3 linked regions of the Homo sapiens genome follow. The protein of the gene in region 3 interacts with the protein of the main gene of each other region in a pairwise test. Each region holds a gene or a part of one and is shown on either strand. Other genes may lie near its edges. The genes, in order: SLC16A2, TMED8 and TMEM254.

Region 1 (2,629 bases), on a different chromosome or scaffold from region 3:
CTAGGCCTCAGTCTCTCCACTTAAATTCAATGCACAGGATGGACAAGGGAGACTCTAAGGTTACTCTCAGCTTTGTCATTCTTATAGGTCTGTCTCCTGCATCATCCTTAATTCCAGGCTCTGTCACTGCCAGGCTGTGTCAGCCAGCCATATAAGTCCCTTTAGGTTCCCCATCAATAACATAAGGGAGAGGGAAGGAGAGCTGAATTGGATTATTATTAATGCCAGTTTTCAATATGGCACATTTGTAGCAAGGCTGTGGCCTTGGTGGGGCCTCCATTCCAACTCAGCAAGTAACCACATTCTCATTTTGTGAAGTAACCACTTTTCCACTTCAGAGCTTGTTTAAAAATCCAATCTCAAATAGTCAACCAACTCCAAACCCCTATATAGCTCTTTTTCTAATGTCTGCTCTCACAGAGAGCATAGAACCTGGCAGAAATTTGATTTGAAAGGAGACTTCAGCTCTGAAGTCAAACTTTCTGCTATTAATCAGGTTAAGACTATTTCTTCCTTGTAGGCAACATACATACCCAAACCAAATTTTTAGATCTGTTTATTTTGTTCCAAACTCCTTGAGGATTTAAATGTCCCATGTCTTGAGCTCTGAAATTTTGTTCGTTCTAGATTTAACTGTGGTGCATAAGAGGCTGCATCCTACTCTAAATATTAATACTGTGCTGCTTTTGCCAATCAACATTCTCTCCAAAAGCACACAAGCTCACATGTGCACAACCACATGTGTGGAAGAAGTAAATTGATATCCCACCATATTATGTGACATCTGAATGGGCAGATTTGGGACCTATGAATGTCTTCCCTTCATCTGGAGAGAAGTGGGCGACTGCCTGATTCTTAAGAGCCATCTGCATCTTAAGCAACAAAAGAGGTCCTACAGAACCACCCTCTGGTGACTTGGTGAGAGTGAGGTGGGGAGAAATGGAAGCAGGGGCATTGTTGCTCCAGTATTTTCAGTGGTCTCTCCTGGGAGTTACAGGGCTCCTAGGGCCCAGATTCTCCTGTTCCACTACTGTTAGAACTGACAGGATAGTAACTAGGCCCTTTCTAGGGCCCCTTCCTACCCACAGAGCTAAGAACCAGTGGGTTTTCCTTTGGGGAGTTGATAAGAGCTGGACTGGGACCAGCGGAGGGGGCTCAGGACTTTGGCCTTGAATGAAATCATTGGAGGCCAACCATGCCCCAGCTGCCTGTTTGTAACGGAAAATCATGAGTGGGAACTATTGTCTTCTTTGGAGCCCCTCAGGACAACCTCATCCTCCTGGCCCGGGGATGACCCTGCCTTAAGGTGGCAAGTTACTGTTGGCTCCAAGTGACAGCCAGGAATGCCTGGCAAAAAGATGATGAAAGGGTGGGTGACAGGAACACAATAGACAAAGGCTCAGAGAGGAGAAAAAGAGACACAAAGAGGCAGAGTGAGGAGAGAGGCTGAGCTCCTAATGAGGTGAGCTGTGCTAACTGAACACAGCCTGGCAGTGCCCTCTGCCCCTAGCCAGGGGCACTGGGAATGTTCTTCAGTAAGACTGTTGCCAGAGCCTGGGCATAAGGAGGCATCAGTCACCTACTTCAGAGGGATCAAAGTGGTTCAGAGTCTACCTTTCATGGCACCTTTAATGCCCTCTAAGCAAAGTGGCCTAGGATGCCCAGCATGGGAGACACATTGGGTGGTAAAGGCTGGGATGGCTTCCCCTTCCCAAAAGAAATTTTCCAACCCTATGTGCAACTGCTGCCTGTACCTTTTTGGGATCCAGGCTAGGAATTGATTTTTTTTTTCTTAAATAGTCTCTTTCCTGGCCTGGCCCAGGTAGAAATATAGACCTGTCATGAAAACTGAGAGATGGGGCTCACCATATCAATAACTACTGCCCCTCCTCCCGCCATGGCAGCTCGTGTCATCAGTCCTCCTCTACCTGCTGAGATGAAAGGAGTTTCTTCACATTTTGCCATGTGTATACAAGAATGGGGTGCTGGGAGGGCCTTGAGGTTAATGCCTTGGACTGTAAGATTTGTAAAAATCAGTGACTGGAACATGGAACACTGTGGTGTTTAAGGTTTCTTCCCTATATGATATTCTACTCTTCCAGTCTAGGATTATATAGCTTGAGCGAAAAAGTGAGATGTGGCTCAGCCTGAGATGAGTGGGACTGATGCTAGTGTTAGGAGTGGACTGGGACAAGGTGAGGCTGATTGGCCCAAGTTCCGGGTCCCTCCTTTCTTCAAGCACCCATGTGTCTATGACAGTCATACAAAGAAATAGAGGGGAAAGAGTATGGAGAGAAGTCAGTAGAGGAAAAAAAGAAGGAAGGGAAGAGGGGAGCAGACTGTTAACCAACCATACAATAAGGGCACTGCTTGTACCCAGTTCTTGGGAAGCCACAGTCATCAGCAACTCTAAGACTAACCAAGGCTACTTGTCTCATTTTGCCTCCCTGCCCCTCCACCCAGTGGCTCCCAAATATGGATGGCAATGACCTCCTCAGCAAACAGAGATTTGGGCCTACCCTATTAGGCTCCTGGGGACACAGTAGCACCTTTGGCAGTTGATTATAGTGGGTGACTAACAAGCTGGGTCCAGGAGGTCCCATCCTCCTCCTCCCCCAGAGCTTAGAAA
Region 2 (2,450 bases), on a different chromosome or scaffold from region 3:
TTCCCTCGTTGTGATCAATTTTAAAAGACAGTTCTCAAGCAGCACAAAACGGTGTAACTTATGCCCCTCCCTTATGCTCCACTAAAACAAGTCTCTTATGTAAATATTAGGGTCACTCAATTCCACACCTTAGAACCACTGGGGTTAAAAGGCAACCTTCTGCAGATAAGTGGTCTTAACAAACAAATATAAAAGCAGACTTTAGAGTCTGGGTTTCAACTAATTCTCTCAAAGAGGGACTGAGCAGGACTCATAAACATAAACTCATATTCCCTACAGATTAAGACTTTTTATGATAATACCTAATTCTACTGCTTAATATAAGACAGCGTTCAGATTTCACTCTTCCATATACATATTATAATGGGACAATATACACTTTTTTAAAAGTCTGAGTTTTTCTTCCCAAAATAACAAAAATATTTTTTAAAGTGCATGTATCAATTCATTAAGAAAAAAATAACTAAGAATGGTCTAATTCCAAATTGCTACCTACTTCCATGATAAAGCTACCTGTTATCTAAGGATTGAGTTTTAATATCAGAGTCCTGAGGACATGTCATCAAGCAACAGAGGTTAGCATAAAGCCCTTCCGGAGCAGCTTCACAATCACTCTTGTACTGACATGCCAGTTAGTAAGGAAAACAGCAGAGATCATGGCCTGAGGGAAGGGGAAAATACAGCACAGATGTATTTTCTTGAAAGATGGAGACCAAGAAACAATTTTTTTTTTTTTGAGACGGAATCTTGCTCTGTTGCCCAGTCTGGAGTGCAGTGGCATGATCTCGGCTCGCTGCAACCTCTGCCTCCTGGGCTCAAGAAATTCTCCCTGCTTCTGCCTCCAGAGTAGCTGGGATTACAGATGCCCGCCACCACGCCCAGCTAATTTTTTGTATTTTTAGTAGCGACGGAGTTTCACTATGTTGGCCAGGCTGGTCTCGAACTCCTGGCCTAAGGTGGTCTGCCCACCTTGGCCTCCCAAAGTGCTGGGATTACAGGCGTGGGCCACGGCGCCTGGCCTCCAAGAAACATTTTTATGAAGACCACCTCCTGGGTAACCCATGTTGAATGAAACAGGTCTGCTAAAAATCAGGGGCTCTCCAACAGAGCCGATATGCAGGGGACATTCTCAGCATTCTCTAATTGGACACTTGTCAAAAGGAACAGAATGTTAGAATCATCTTTGCCTAGGAATTGGTAGTTTAAAATTTTTACATTTATGCGGGGAGTGTGTGTATACATATATATACAGCAAACCAAAAATAAATTCTAAATCCCCCAACCGGCTGAATGGACCCCTGTCTTGGCCCAGGGGATCTCAAAGGAACCTGAAAAACTAGTCCATGATGGGAAGACAGGGTGCCTCATATTATGGTCAGATTACAGGGTGCCTCATATTACCCTCTTCCCTTTGGAATTTAAATACAACTGACCAGCATTAACATTAAAACAGAGATCTTAAGACTAACCAAACAGACCCTTTGTGGCAATAAAATACCAAATCCCAACCTGACTCTGGTATAGCATCACATGACAGCAGGCCCCAAAGGAAATTTACCCCCCAATATATTTATTTGACGTATTTTGAAATGGCCCTACAAAGCTGTCTCTTGTGGGGGAAACTGCATTCTGTAGAGAATCTCCTTCTCTTATTAGGTCTTTTCTGGAGAGTCTGACACCTTTTAAGGCCTAAAAAGAAAAATTCATCATCTGTTCTCTCTGAAGCCTGCTACCTGGAGGCTTCATCTACATGACTTAAGCCAAGCCTCCCTTACTTTAACTTAAGCTGACTTCATCTTTTCAGGTAAAGTTTAACTCTCTCAACCAACTGCCAGTCAGGAACTCTTTGATCTACCTCTGACCTGGAAACCCCCATCTTCAAGATGTCCTGCCTTTCCAGGCCAAACCAGTGTATACCTTACATGTATTGATTTATGGCTTTGCCTGGACCTTCTGTCTCCCTCAAATGTATAAAACTGTAACCCGACTACCTCGGGCACATGTTCTAAGAACCTCCTGAGGCCCCATCATGGGCTCTGAACCTTGGCAAAATAAACCTCTAAATGTATTGAGACCTGTCTCAGATACTTTTTGGTTTACAATATATTTATATTTCTTTTAAGCTGTTTGCTGAAATTTTTTCACAATAAAACACTGGGGGAAAAGAAATCAATACTTTAAATATGTCTTCCTTTCTAAAAGGCCCATCTCTCAACAAAGTGGCAAAACTAAAACTAAAGAAATTTAAGAACTCAGTCACTATAGAGAATTCCAATCTCTCTCCTACTATGAAGCACTTTCTTTCAATTGTTTGTTACTATTTGTTTGTGCTCTAGAGAACAGGGTGAGGATCAAAGCAAACGGTTTTCATTTCATTGTTTGGGTCTATAAATTTGGACTGGGAGGGGCTGAGGAAATGACTGTCTCTTAGAATTTGCTGGGCTGTGGGT
Region 3 (2,360 bases):
TAAGCAATCAAGATGGTGAGAGACGCTATCCCAAAGAAGAAAGTCTGTAGGAACCAGAGTAGCTGAGCCCGACCACTTGTGATGCCTTTATGCCTAAAACAGAAAAAACAAAATTTAAACACGAGATGTTAATCTTACAGTTTCATGGGAGTTATTGTCTTCTATATATATATTTTTTAAATTATACCTTCCACTACTTTCATTGGGTTTATTTTGCTGCTTTTCTCTGGCTTATCTTGGATGGTTCATTTATTTTTCATCTTTCTTGTTTTCTAACAAATGTATTTTGGATGGTAAACTATTCCCTGAGAACTAGTCTGGCTACTGTCTAGGGCACAGTATTATAAGACTGTTTCTCATGTGATTCTGATGAGCGGATGGAGTAAAAAGCACTGGTATGGTTTCAGAGCAAATGTTTTGCAAATAGACCAGATATAAATCCTAGCGTGGCTACCTACCAGCTGTGACCTGGGCAAATCACTCAGAATCTCTCAGAATCAGTTTTCTCATCTGAAAAACAGGAACAGCAGTAGCTATCTCACTGAGTCAGTTGAGATGATTTATGGGATAATACACACAACATGCTCAGGAAGGAGCCTGGCACACAGTCATGATAAACACCTGCTTATATTGTCATTCAAATTCAACTGCCTAAAATGAAGTGCAAAAAAAAGATGACCCAATGGAAGGGAATGGCTTGCTACAGTCTCATCTGTACATAAATAAGTCTCACTTGGATGACTTTTATTTAAAACAAACTTTAAAAACAATATATGTAAAAGCAATATAATTTTCTACAGTAACAGATTAAAACAGAAAGATCATATGAATATCTTAATAAATGCAGAAGTGGCATTTGACAAATTTCTTTTTTTTTTTTTTTTTGAGATGGAGTCTCGCTCTGTCACCCAGGCTGGAGTGCAGTGGCGCGATCTTGACTCACTGCAAGCTCTGCCTCCCGGGTTGATGCCATTCTCCTGCCTCAGCCTCCCGAGTAGCTGGGATTACAGGAGCCCGCCACCACGCCTGGCTAATTTTTTGTATTTCTTTAGTAGAGATGGGGTTTCACTGTGTTAGCCAGGATGGTCTCGATCTCTTGACCTCGTGATCCACCCACCTCGGCCTCCCAAAGTGCTGGTATTACAGGCGTGAGCCACCACGCCCGGCTGCATTTGACAAATTTCAACATCCATTCTTTTTCCAACCCCCCCAGAGATGGGGTCTCACTCTGTCACCTACAGTGGAGTGTACTGGTACAATTATAGCTCACTGCAGCCTCAAACTCCTGGGCTAAAGCTATCCTCCCACCTTAGCTTCCCAAGTAGCTGGGATCATCACAGGCACGCACCACCATGCCTGGCTAGGTTTTTTGTTTGTTTTTTGTAGAGACAGTGTCTTGCTTTGTTGCCCAGGCTGGTCTTGAACTCCTGGCTTCAACTGATTCTCCCACCTCAGCCTCCCGAAGTGCTGGGATTACAGGTGTGAGCCACCTGCATCCACATCCAACATCCATTTTTAATAAAACTTCTCAGCAAAGTTAGAAATACAATGGAACTTCCTAATTTTGACACAGGAGATCTACAAAACTCTATAATAAACATGATGCAAAATGTTGAAAGTTCTCCTTTGAGGTCAAGAACAAGGCACACTTCTAGTCAGCACTGCTGGAAGTTCTAGCTAGTAGAATAAGGGAAGAAACATAAATAAAAGGTATACAGAATTGAAAGAAAGAAATAAAACTGTATTTCTGGACAGTTTTATACCTAAAAACTGAAAATAATCTATAAACTGTTACAATTAATAAATTTATTTAGCAAGATTGCTGGGTATAAGGTCAATATAAAAAATTGACTATATTCATACAAAGTACCATCAGACAATTAGAAAATGAAATGAAACAAAGGGAGCCAAGATCATGCCACTGAACTCCAGTCTGGGCGACAGAGCTAGACTCCATCTCAAAAAACAAAAACAAAAACAACAACAAAAGTTGGCCAGGTGTGGTGGCTCAGGCCTGTAATTCCAGCACTTTGGGAGACCGACGCAGGTGGATCGCTTGAGCCCAGGAGTTTGACATCAGCCTTGGCAACATAATGATACCCTATCTTTTTTTTTTTTTTTTGAGACGGAGTCTTGCTCTGTCGCCCAGGCTGGAGTGCAGTGGCATGATCTCAGCTAACTGCAAGCTCCGGGGCCTCCCGGGTTCATGCCATTCTCCTGCCTCAGCCTCCTGGAGACCCTCCATCTTTTTTTAAAAAAAAGTCATTTATAATAACATCTCAAAGTAGAAGTTGCTGGAAATTAATGTAACAACAATGTGTAAAACCTCTTAAAAATTATATATATATTAAAGGAGATCT

Evidence for each region.
Region 1: the proteins of TMEM254 (region 3) and SLC16A2 interact in a two-hybrid assay, tested with the Homo sapiens proteins (one large-scale study listed by BioGRID).
Region 2: the proteins of TMEM254 (region 3) and TMED8 interact in binary tests that used the Homo sapiens proteins (3 or more experiments, as listed by UniProt).

Annotation. Positions count from the first base shown.
Region 1 is NC_000023.11:74,531,828-74,534,456, reverse strand, and holds the end of SLC16A2 (monocarboxylate transporter 8), read right to left. Parts: 3' UTR 541-2,629; downstream 1-540. UniProt on the Homo sapiens protein: Specific thyroid hormone transmembrane transporter, that mediates both uptake and efflux of thyroid hormones across the cell membrane independently of pH or a Na(+) gradient.
Region 2 is NC_000014.9:77,336,671-77,339,120, forward strand, and holds part of TMED8 (protein TMED8), read right to left. Parts: 3' UTR 1-2,450.
Region 3 is NC_000010.11:80,088,530-80,090,889, reverse strand, and holds part of TMEM254 (transmembrane protein 254), read right to left. Parts: intron 511-2,360; coding exon of another isoform or gene 478-510; exon of another isoform or gene 459-477; intron 94-458; coding exon 1-93.